2 linked regions of the Homo sapiens genome follow. The protein of the gene in region 1 purifies or fractionates together with the protein of each later gene. This does not show direct contact. Each region holds a gene or a part of one and is shown in the gene's direction. Other genes may lie near its edges.

Region 1 (5,502 bases):
CTGGGAGGTGGAGGTTGCAGTGAGCTGAGATCACACCACTGCACTCCAGCCTGGGCGACAGAGCAAGACTCCATCTCTATAAAAATAAATAAATAAATAAATAAAAATAAAAAATAAAGACCATAGCATGCTTACTGTCAGATTGGTTTTTTAATTCTCTCCTGATTCTCATAGGAGGATAAAGATCAGAGAATCAGTCTGAACTCTGTTTTGGCTTTGAGCTTTCATGGTTGTTTTGGATGATACCCACAGGATACATGTTATCCCTTGGTGGGCCCGAATTGCTCTTGCTGCCTCAGATGACTTAGCCACATGGACATGAAGGCCCTGATTCATCACTCCCCACCTGAGCCAGGGCACTCGCCAGGCAGCGGGCACTGCTGTTTCTGTGAGTACTTCCAGTGTGGACTTTGCATTTCAGTGAGAAGTGCCGTGCTCCTGCCTGGTGTGATCGGATTCTCTGGAAAGGGAAGAACATCACTCAGCTGAGTTACCAGAGCCACATGGCCCTGAAGACCAGTGACCACAAGCCTGTCAGCTCAGTGTTTGACATCGGGGTAGGTGGCAGCTGGTACCTGTTGTAATCATTCTGGAGGGAATTGGCTTTCACAACTAAGACCATTTCTTGTCTTTCTGGTTTCTTCCTCTCCTTTTGAGAGGGAAGAAGCCCCTTTTAGGACAATTTAAAACAATTATTAACAACTTGGTTAATAATTGTTTTAGTATGCCTCTGCATTTTTCCTCATACATGGAAGTTCCCTTTTGCATTTTTGAACTGTCTCTTTGCAGACCTTTCTCTATGCGTTTATAAATGGGTGTGTCAGTATTGTGTATACAACATTGAGGATATTTTTCCTTTTTTGTAAAAGAGATCATATTATACATTTTGCTCTGAGGACATCTTTTTTTCCCTGACTGAATATGTCTTAGGAGATCTTTCCAGGACAGTGAAGGTAGAGCTTTCTTCTCATTATTTTTAAAGGTTGCAAAGTATTCCATAGTATGGATGAGCCATAATGTATGTATTGATGATCATAAAGTTATTTCCAAAGTTTTGCTATTATACACAGTGCTGTTGTGACCACCCTTCACATGTATGTTTGTGTATCAGTGTATTTCTATAGAATGAAATTATTAGAGATGAAATTAGCGGTTCAAATAAAAAATGTATTTTAAATTTATTAGATCTTGCTAAATTACCCTCACAACAGTTTTACCACTTTATACTTCTACCAACCATGTATAAGTTTATTTTCCCATACCCTTGTCAATATTGGGTTTTATCAGTCTTCAAAATTTTTGCCAACCCAATAAGCAGATATTTTATCATGTTAGATTACATTTCCCTGATTACCTATGAGATCAGCATCTTTTTCTTCCTTTCCTTTTTTTTTTTTTCTGTTGAGATGGAGTCTCGCTCTGTCACCCAGGCTGGAGTGCAGTGGCGTGATTTCAGCTTGCTGCAACCTCCGCCTCCCGGGTTCAAGCGATTCTCCTGCCTCAGCCTCCCAAGTAGCTGGGATTACAGGCACATTACACCACGTCTGGCTATTTTTTTGTATTTTTAGTAGAGATGGGGTTCGATCTCCTGCCCTCGTGATCCACCTGACTCGGCCTCCCAAAGTGCTGTGATTACAGGCATGAGCCACCGCTCCCAGCCTTTTCTTTTTGTTTTTTTTCAAAAGACACTGTTTTGTTCTGTCACCCAGGCTGGAGTGCAGTGATGCAGTGGCACAGTCACAGCGAACTGCGGCCTCAATCTGCTGGGCTTAAGCAATCCTCCCACATACATCAGCCTCCTCAGTAGGTAGGATTACAGGCATGCCTGTATGTGTGTGTCACCTTACCTGACTAATTTTTTTTTTGAGATGGAGTCTTGCTCTGTCACCCAGGCTGGAGTGCAGTGGCGCCATCTCGGCTCACTGCAAGCTCCGCCTCCCAGGTTCACGCCATTCTCCTGCCTCAGCCTCCCGAGTAGCTGGGACTACAGGCAGGCGCCCGCCACCACACCCGGCTAATGGTTTTTTTTTTTTTTTTTTTTGTATTTTTAGTAGAGACGGGGTTTCACCGTGTTAGCCAGGATGGTCTTGATCTCCTGACCTCGTGATATGCCCACCTCGGCATCCCAAAGTGCTGGGATTACTGGCGTGAGCCACCGGGCCCTTTTTTTTTTTTTTTTTTTTTTTTTTTTTAAAGAGACAGCATCTTGCTGTCTTGCCCAGACTGGTCTCAAGTGACTCCTGGGCTCAGGTGATCCTTCTGCCTTGGCTACCCCAAGTGCTGGGATTACAGGCATGAGCCTTCTCATTTATTTATTATCTATCTGTGGTGGCTCTTTATTATCATTACAATGCCTCACACCTGTAATCCCAGCACTTTGGGAGGCTGAGGTGGGTGGATTGCTTGAGCTCAGGAGTTCAAGACCAGCCTGGGCAACATGGCAAAACCCCTCATCTCTACAAAAAGTAAAAAAATTAGCTGGGCATGATGGCTTGTGTCTGTGGTCTCAGCTACTTGGGGGGCTGAGGTAGGAGCATCACTTGAACCCAGAAGGCGGAGGTTGCAGTGAGCCAAGATCACTCTATTGTACTCCAGCCTGGGTGACAGCAAGACCTTGTTGCAAAAAAAAAAAAAAAACAAACTTGAGAAACACTGCTTTAAATCAAAGCCTTAGAAAAAGTTCTCACTGCTGGCCTGTTGGTGGCAGCAAGCAAAATAGAGCTAGGTACTGGGCAAGCATTTTTCTGCCCTGGTCCTAAGACCTGGCAGAACTAACTGCTAACCATGCTTTCACTTCCATGTATTTTTTTCTGGTAATCAGGAAGCAGATGCCTGTACCACAAGCTTTGCCTCTGGCAGATCCTTCTAAGTCAATTGTTAATGGAGTTCATTAATTAACTAAATCTATAGCCTTTGTTTTCTGTGTTGCTATCAACTGCTATTTCCCAGTGCTGTGAATGCCGTCTATACTGAGAAAGAGGAAATGGGCAGAAGCCAAGGTACTCAGTCTCTGATGTTTCCCTTTCAGGTGAGGGTCGTAAATGACGAGCTTTACCGGAAGACACTGGAGGAAATTGTTCGCTCCCTGGATAAGATGGAAAATGCCAACATTCCTTCTGTGTCCCTGTCCAAGCGAGAGGTAGGAAGGACATGTTAAGAATATTAGCATTGGGCTCAGGCCGGGTGCAGTGGCTCACGCCTGTAATCCCAGCACTTTGGGAGGCCAAGGTGGGCAGGTCATGAGGTCAGGAGATCAAGACCATCCTGGCTAACACGGTGAAACCCTGTCTCTACTAAAAATACAAAAAATTAGCCGGGCGTGGTGGTCGGCACCTGTAGTCCCAACTACTCGGGAGGCTGAGACAGGAGAATGACGTGAACCTGGGAGGTGGAGCTTGCAGTGAGCCGAGATCGCGCCACTGCACTCTAGCCTGGGCGACCAAGTGAGACTCCATCTCAAAAAAAAAAGATTAGTGTTGGGCTCTTCTATTCCTAGAGCTTAAATCTCCTCATCTATTGGAGCTCAGAGTTCTAGGAGGCACCTATAGCACTATGGACTGTGGTCTTTCTTGATAGACTGCTTTTCGATAAAGTGAGGCTGATGGTGTTAGCTGAGAAGAGAGAGGTTGTTGGCTTAGGTCATCATGTCCTATTCTTCTAAACCAGAATATGGTTCAAAATGTGTTTTGATTTTAGAATAACTATTGTGTATTCTTGCAATGGATTTTTCTTCTTACTGATGCTTTGCTTTGAGATTAAATTGAGTTTGGATACCCATGAGTTAATGGGAGGGAAGACAGTATAGAAAAGGAATAGGTAATATAGGAAGTTGAATATGGTCTGAAGGTTTTTCATGGAAGAGCCACATGGAAGATCACTCACACTTGACATTCTACAAAGTCAAATTGGGGTTTAAGGTGAAGGCGTTTTTTGTTTGGTTTGTTTGTTTTAAACAGAGTCTTACTCTGTCACCCAGGCTGGAGTGCAATGGCACGATCTCGGCTCACTGCAACCTCCGCCTCCTAGGTTCAAGCAATTCTCCTGTCTCCGCCTCCCAGTAGCTGGGATTACAGGCTGTGCCACCATGCCTGGCTAATTTTTGTATTTTTAGTAGAGATGGGGTTTTGCCATGTTGGCCAGGCTGGTCTTGAACTCCTGAGCTCAAGTGATCTGCCCGTCTCGGCCTCCCAAACTGCTAGGATTATGGGCCTGAGCCACTGTGGCAGCCGCAGATGGCATTTTTAATGCCCTAGATGTCCAGCTACTTGGAAGGATGGGCTTGATCTTCATGTTTAGAAGTGGAATTTGTGAAGGGTATTTTGTAAATGGTTTTTGGGTATAGAAGATATAAACTTTGACTTCTTCAGGAAGTAGACATACAAAAACAAACGGAATTTTTGGATTTTGGGTTAAACACAGATAACTAGTCTTTAGTGGGAACTGTGGCCTCCCAGGTAGATACTTAAAGCAGAAACATTTAAAAGAGATGGTTCATTTTCTTTCCATGGTAAGGACTGCCCAGTTGGGGTGGCTGGGCAGGTTGCTGAGGAAAGGGCACTGGTTTTCACTGGCCCCGGGCTTCTTCCCAGTTCTGTTTTCAGAATGTGAAGTACATGCAATTGAAAGTAGAATCCTTTACAATTCATAATGGACAAGTACCCTGTCATTTTGAATTCATCAACAAGCCTGATGAAGAGTCTTACTGTAAGCAGTGGCTGAATGCCAACCCCAGCAGAGGCTTCCTCCTGCCAGGTAAGGCCTCTGTTCCTAGCTTCCTGGTATCTGGTTTGGGGAATGCCTTACTCTATATTTGCTCATTTTCCTAAAATGAGCTTTTTGCTTGAGTGTTTTATTCTCTGCTTGAGGCTTTTTAAAAAGCCCTATAGATGAACCCATTCATGAATAAAATAGAAAATAGTGAGGAGCATGAGTTCAGTTTCAAAAGCATTCTCAGTCATTTATGTGTTCCATAATTTCACAGAAAGAGAAAACATAAAATTGCTGTATAGCAGGTGCTGCTGTTAAAGGAACCATTTTACTATCTTGCTATAATCAACTCCCAATTATCTGCTCTTGATAATGGGGAAGTAATCCAGAAATTATATCTGGCTCTGGAATGTACCATCCACATTTTTCCCGACTTCTCCTTCGCACTCTGCATGGTACTCTGTGATGGAACAATGAAGGGTGTTTTGTGGACAATTCACAGGCCGATAATTGCGTTACACTTCTACTGAGTCAGTCATCTTCATCTTACCTGGCTCAGGGAAGGCTCTTTGATCCATGCCTTCTTATTCTGTTAGTATTTCTAGCTTGAGCTGTGCTCCTTAGTGCTTGAATTTTATAGCATTTGTCTATTCAAATGTTTTTGTTTGTTGTTTTCATATTCCCAGTTGGACTATAAACTCTTTGTTCTTGTGTCTCCTGCATGCCAAGCACATTTGGATGCTTGTTGGTTGGCTGATACCTTTTCTTTCCTTTTCCTAACCCTTTATGCCTTAC
Region 2 (3,578 bases), on another chromosome or scaffold:
AAGGCATGAAATCAGTCTTAAAAATTGAAATGGGGGTGATGGGGGAGAAAAAGAAGAACAAATTTGAAGTGCCCTTTCAAATCTGCTGGATACAAGTATTGAAGTTTTAAGTCATCTTATTCTGTCTGAAAGTGTATTTTTCATTCTACAATAGACCCAATCAACAAGACGTATAACTTGAGTTGCATGATGTTCAGTTTATGTAATCTACTGTTGGGATGGTAAGAATTGATGTAGGCTGTGGTGTAAGAATGAATTAAAATATAGTTTCACTGGCTTTTCTCTACATATCCACTATCACAATGGCTAGGTTTCCTGTTGCTCACTATTGGATTCTGGAGAAAAATTTAATGAAAGATGATATCAGAGGAAGAATAAGTGGAGGTAGAGAAGAAAGGAATGATAGAGGAGGGGAAAAAAACAAAACATATTTTTGTGTTATCCAAAGGAGCTTTTTCCTTATTCTGTCAAGCATTGAGATCTTCTTCAGCTTTCAATGTAGTTGCTAAATACAAATAATGCTACTAGGTAGTGACTAAATATAGCAAACACTTCATCAGATATTAGAATTAGGTCACACTATTGAGGTTATAATCTGAAGGTTGTGTTACATAGAAACCACTTTAGATTATTATCAACTTGGACTAGGCTTTATTTTATAATAGCATAGTAAGTAATATCTATTGTGTCATTTCTTCAACCATTTTATTCTAAGATCCATGAAGCTTCTTGAGGCCAAATAAAATAATAAGTTTAGACAAGAAGTAGATTGTGACTTTTTTCCCTTAGAGATACTATTTACTATCTCCTATCCTGATAGGTGGAAGGTTTACTGAATTGGAAATTGGTTGACTATTAGTTTTTAACTAAAATGTGCAATAACACATTGCAGTTTCCTCAAACTAGTTTCCTATGATCATTAAACTCATTCTCAGGGTTAAGAAAGGAATGTAAATTTCTGCCTCAATTTGTACTTCATCAATAAGTTTTTGAAGAGTGCAGATTTTTAGTCAGGTCTTAAAAATAAACTCACAAATCTGGATGCATTTCTAAATTCTGCAAATGTTTCCTGGGGTGACTTAACAAGGAATAATCCCACAATATACCTAGCTACCTAATACATGGAGCTGGGGCTCAACCCACTGTTTTTAAGGATTTGCGCTTACTTGTGGCTGAGGAAAAATAAGTAGTTCGAGGAAGTAGTTTTTAAATGTGAGCTTATAGATAGAAACAGAATATCAACTTAATTATGAAATTGTTAGAACCTGTTCTCTTGTATCTGAATCTGATTGCAATTACTATTGTACTGATAGACTCCAGCCATTGCAAGTCTCAGATATCTTAGCTGTGTAGTGATTCTTGAAATTCTTTTTAAGAAAAATTGAGTAGAAAGAAATAAACCCTTTGTAAATGAGGCTTGGCTTTTGTGAAAGATCATCCGCAGGCTATGTTAAAAGGATTTTAGCTCACTAAAAGTGTAATAATGGAAATGTGGAAAATATCGTAGGTAAAGGAAACTACCTCATGCTCTGAAGGTTTTGTAGAAGCACAATTAAACATCTAAAATGGCTTTGTTACACCAGAGCCATCTGGTGTGAAGAACTCTATATTTGTATGTTGAGAGGGCATGGAATAATTGTATTTTGCTGGCAATAGACACATTCTTTATTATTTGCAGATTCCTCATCAAATCTGTAATTATGCACAGTTTCTGTTATCAATAAAACAAAAGAATCCTGTTTGTGTGGTTTCATGAAATCAGCATTGTTGAATGCATGAAGTAATAATGCTAAATTAACATTTTTATGATGTCTCAAGGTTTCTGGTCAAGGGAAGTAAATGTAGGATAGTATTTTTACACCAAAATGACACAGAGAGAATTGAGCACACCAGAAAGACCAGAAACCACACCACTGGATAGAGATTCAATATGTTTCTTTTTCAAACATTTGGACAAGAAAAAAATGGGCATTTAAAAATTCTTCCTTCCCCTGGTTATGGATTTATCTGTAGTAAAACTTAGCTTTGTCGTTTGAGATTTGCACAGAATGGGGGGAGTAGATTACCTCTTCCCATTCATTGTCATAATGGATCTACATCACTGATAAACACCATACTTCTATATGTGGTTAACTAGCTTTAGAATAAAAGACACTTTAAAAAGTAAAAGGCCTAGAGATCTTCAATGAAGTGTCCCTTTTAGCCAAACCAGGCCTTGCAGAAATTGTCCTCAAAAGCACCAAGGGAGAACAAAGCCAAGTGCAGAATTACCCAAGGGTCACACATTTTGTATTCATTTTCTTATAATTTGCCCAAATGATTTGAAGTACAGCAAAACCTGAAGTTTTGCAAAGAGTTACTGTAAACTGAACTTAAAAATGTCAGAGTGCTCGGTGACCCACTTCTCCAGACCCTGTCAACCTGTGAAAATATTGGCCTTTATTCAGATCTCTCAAGAAGTTACGCGCAGAGTTTGGAAGGTCTAGGCAAAGGTTATTAGTCAAGTGTTCTTACAGTGTCAACGCTCAATTCCCACAAGCGTGAGAAAGAGAGACCTGTCATTCCTGAGGGTGATGACATACATTTACTGGAGCTTATATAATTTATCAGATAAGACAGCAGTTTCCTTCAGGGTAGAAAGTGTGTTTTCTACATTGATTTAGTACAAAACAAAAAGAAAAGGGGATATTTCAAATTTTATAATTATTTTTCTGCTAAGCTGATTCAGTGTGATTTAAGCATATTTTTCAAATCATGAATCTGATTCCATATACATATGTGCCTTATATTGTGATAATTTATTTTTAAGTGAAATATGCTATCATAGCCTGACTTTATGTATAGTGGTGACAACTTGCAGGATCGCATTTCTGTAACCAAACGGCCGACAGCTGAGGTGTAGATGCTTCCTATGGTCTGTAGAATAATCACTGGGCTTGTTCTCTAGCTATGTCTGTATGCAATCGCGACAGTGTTGATCAAAACCCATGATCATTCTCTCCAAAGGTCTTTGTCACTAAGCCACTAGGGATTCTGAAAAGTTCGTGAGCTGAAACAAATAAATTGAGTTGGAAGATTCATGTTGACTGTTTGTATCCCAAATGCAATATACCAGTTTTTGAAGCTGAACTGATTACATTAAAAAGGGATCAAGCTGCATTTGTTTTAAAGATAGTTACATGACCAAAAGTTGCTCAACATCATTGGTCATTAGATATGTGCAATCAAACCTGCAATGAGATATCACTTCACCCCAGTTAAAATGGCCTATATCCAAAATGCAGGTAATAACAAATGCTGGTAAGGGTGCAGAGAAAAGGGAACCCTCTTACACTGTTGTTGGGAATGTAAATTCATACAACCACTATGGAGAACAGTTTGGAGGTTCCTCAGAAAACTAAACATTGAGGTATGATATGATCCAGCAATCCCACTGCTAGGTATACATCCAAAAGAAAGGAACTCATTACATCAAAAAGATATCTGCAATTCTATTTTTGTTACAGCACTGTTTACAATAGCTATGATTTGGAAGCAACCTAAGTGTCCATCAATAGATGAATGGATGAAGAAAATGT

The links. Proteins that work in one complex are often made in the same cells at the same time.
Region 2: the proteins of INPP5B (region 1) and BCAT1 fractionate together in Homo sapiens (co-fractionation; one large-scale study listed by BioGRID). This does not show direct contact.

What each region holds. Positions count from the first base shown.
Region 1 is NC_000001.11:37,873,243-37,878,744, reverse strand, and holds part of INPP5B (type II inositol 1,4,5-trisphosphate 5-phosphatase isoform 1 precursor), read left to right. Parts: intron 1-174; exon of another isoform or gene 175-421; coding exon 422-557; intron 558-3,028; coding exon 3,029-3,139; intron 3,140-4,589; coding exon 4,590-4,752; intron 4,753-5,502. UniProt on the Homo sapiens protein: Hydrolyzes phosphatidylinositol 4,5-bisphosphate (PtIns(4,5)P2) and the signaling molecule phosphatidylinositol 1,4,5-trisphosphate (PtIns(1,4,5)P3), and thereby modulates cellular signaling events.
Region 2 is NC_000012.12:24,809,524-24,813,101, reverse strand, and holds the end of BCAT1 (branched-chain-amino-acid aminotransferase, cytosolic), read left to right. Parts: 3' UTR 1-3,078; downstream 3,079-3,578.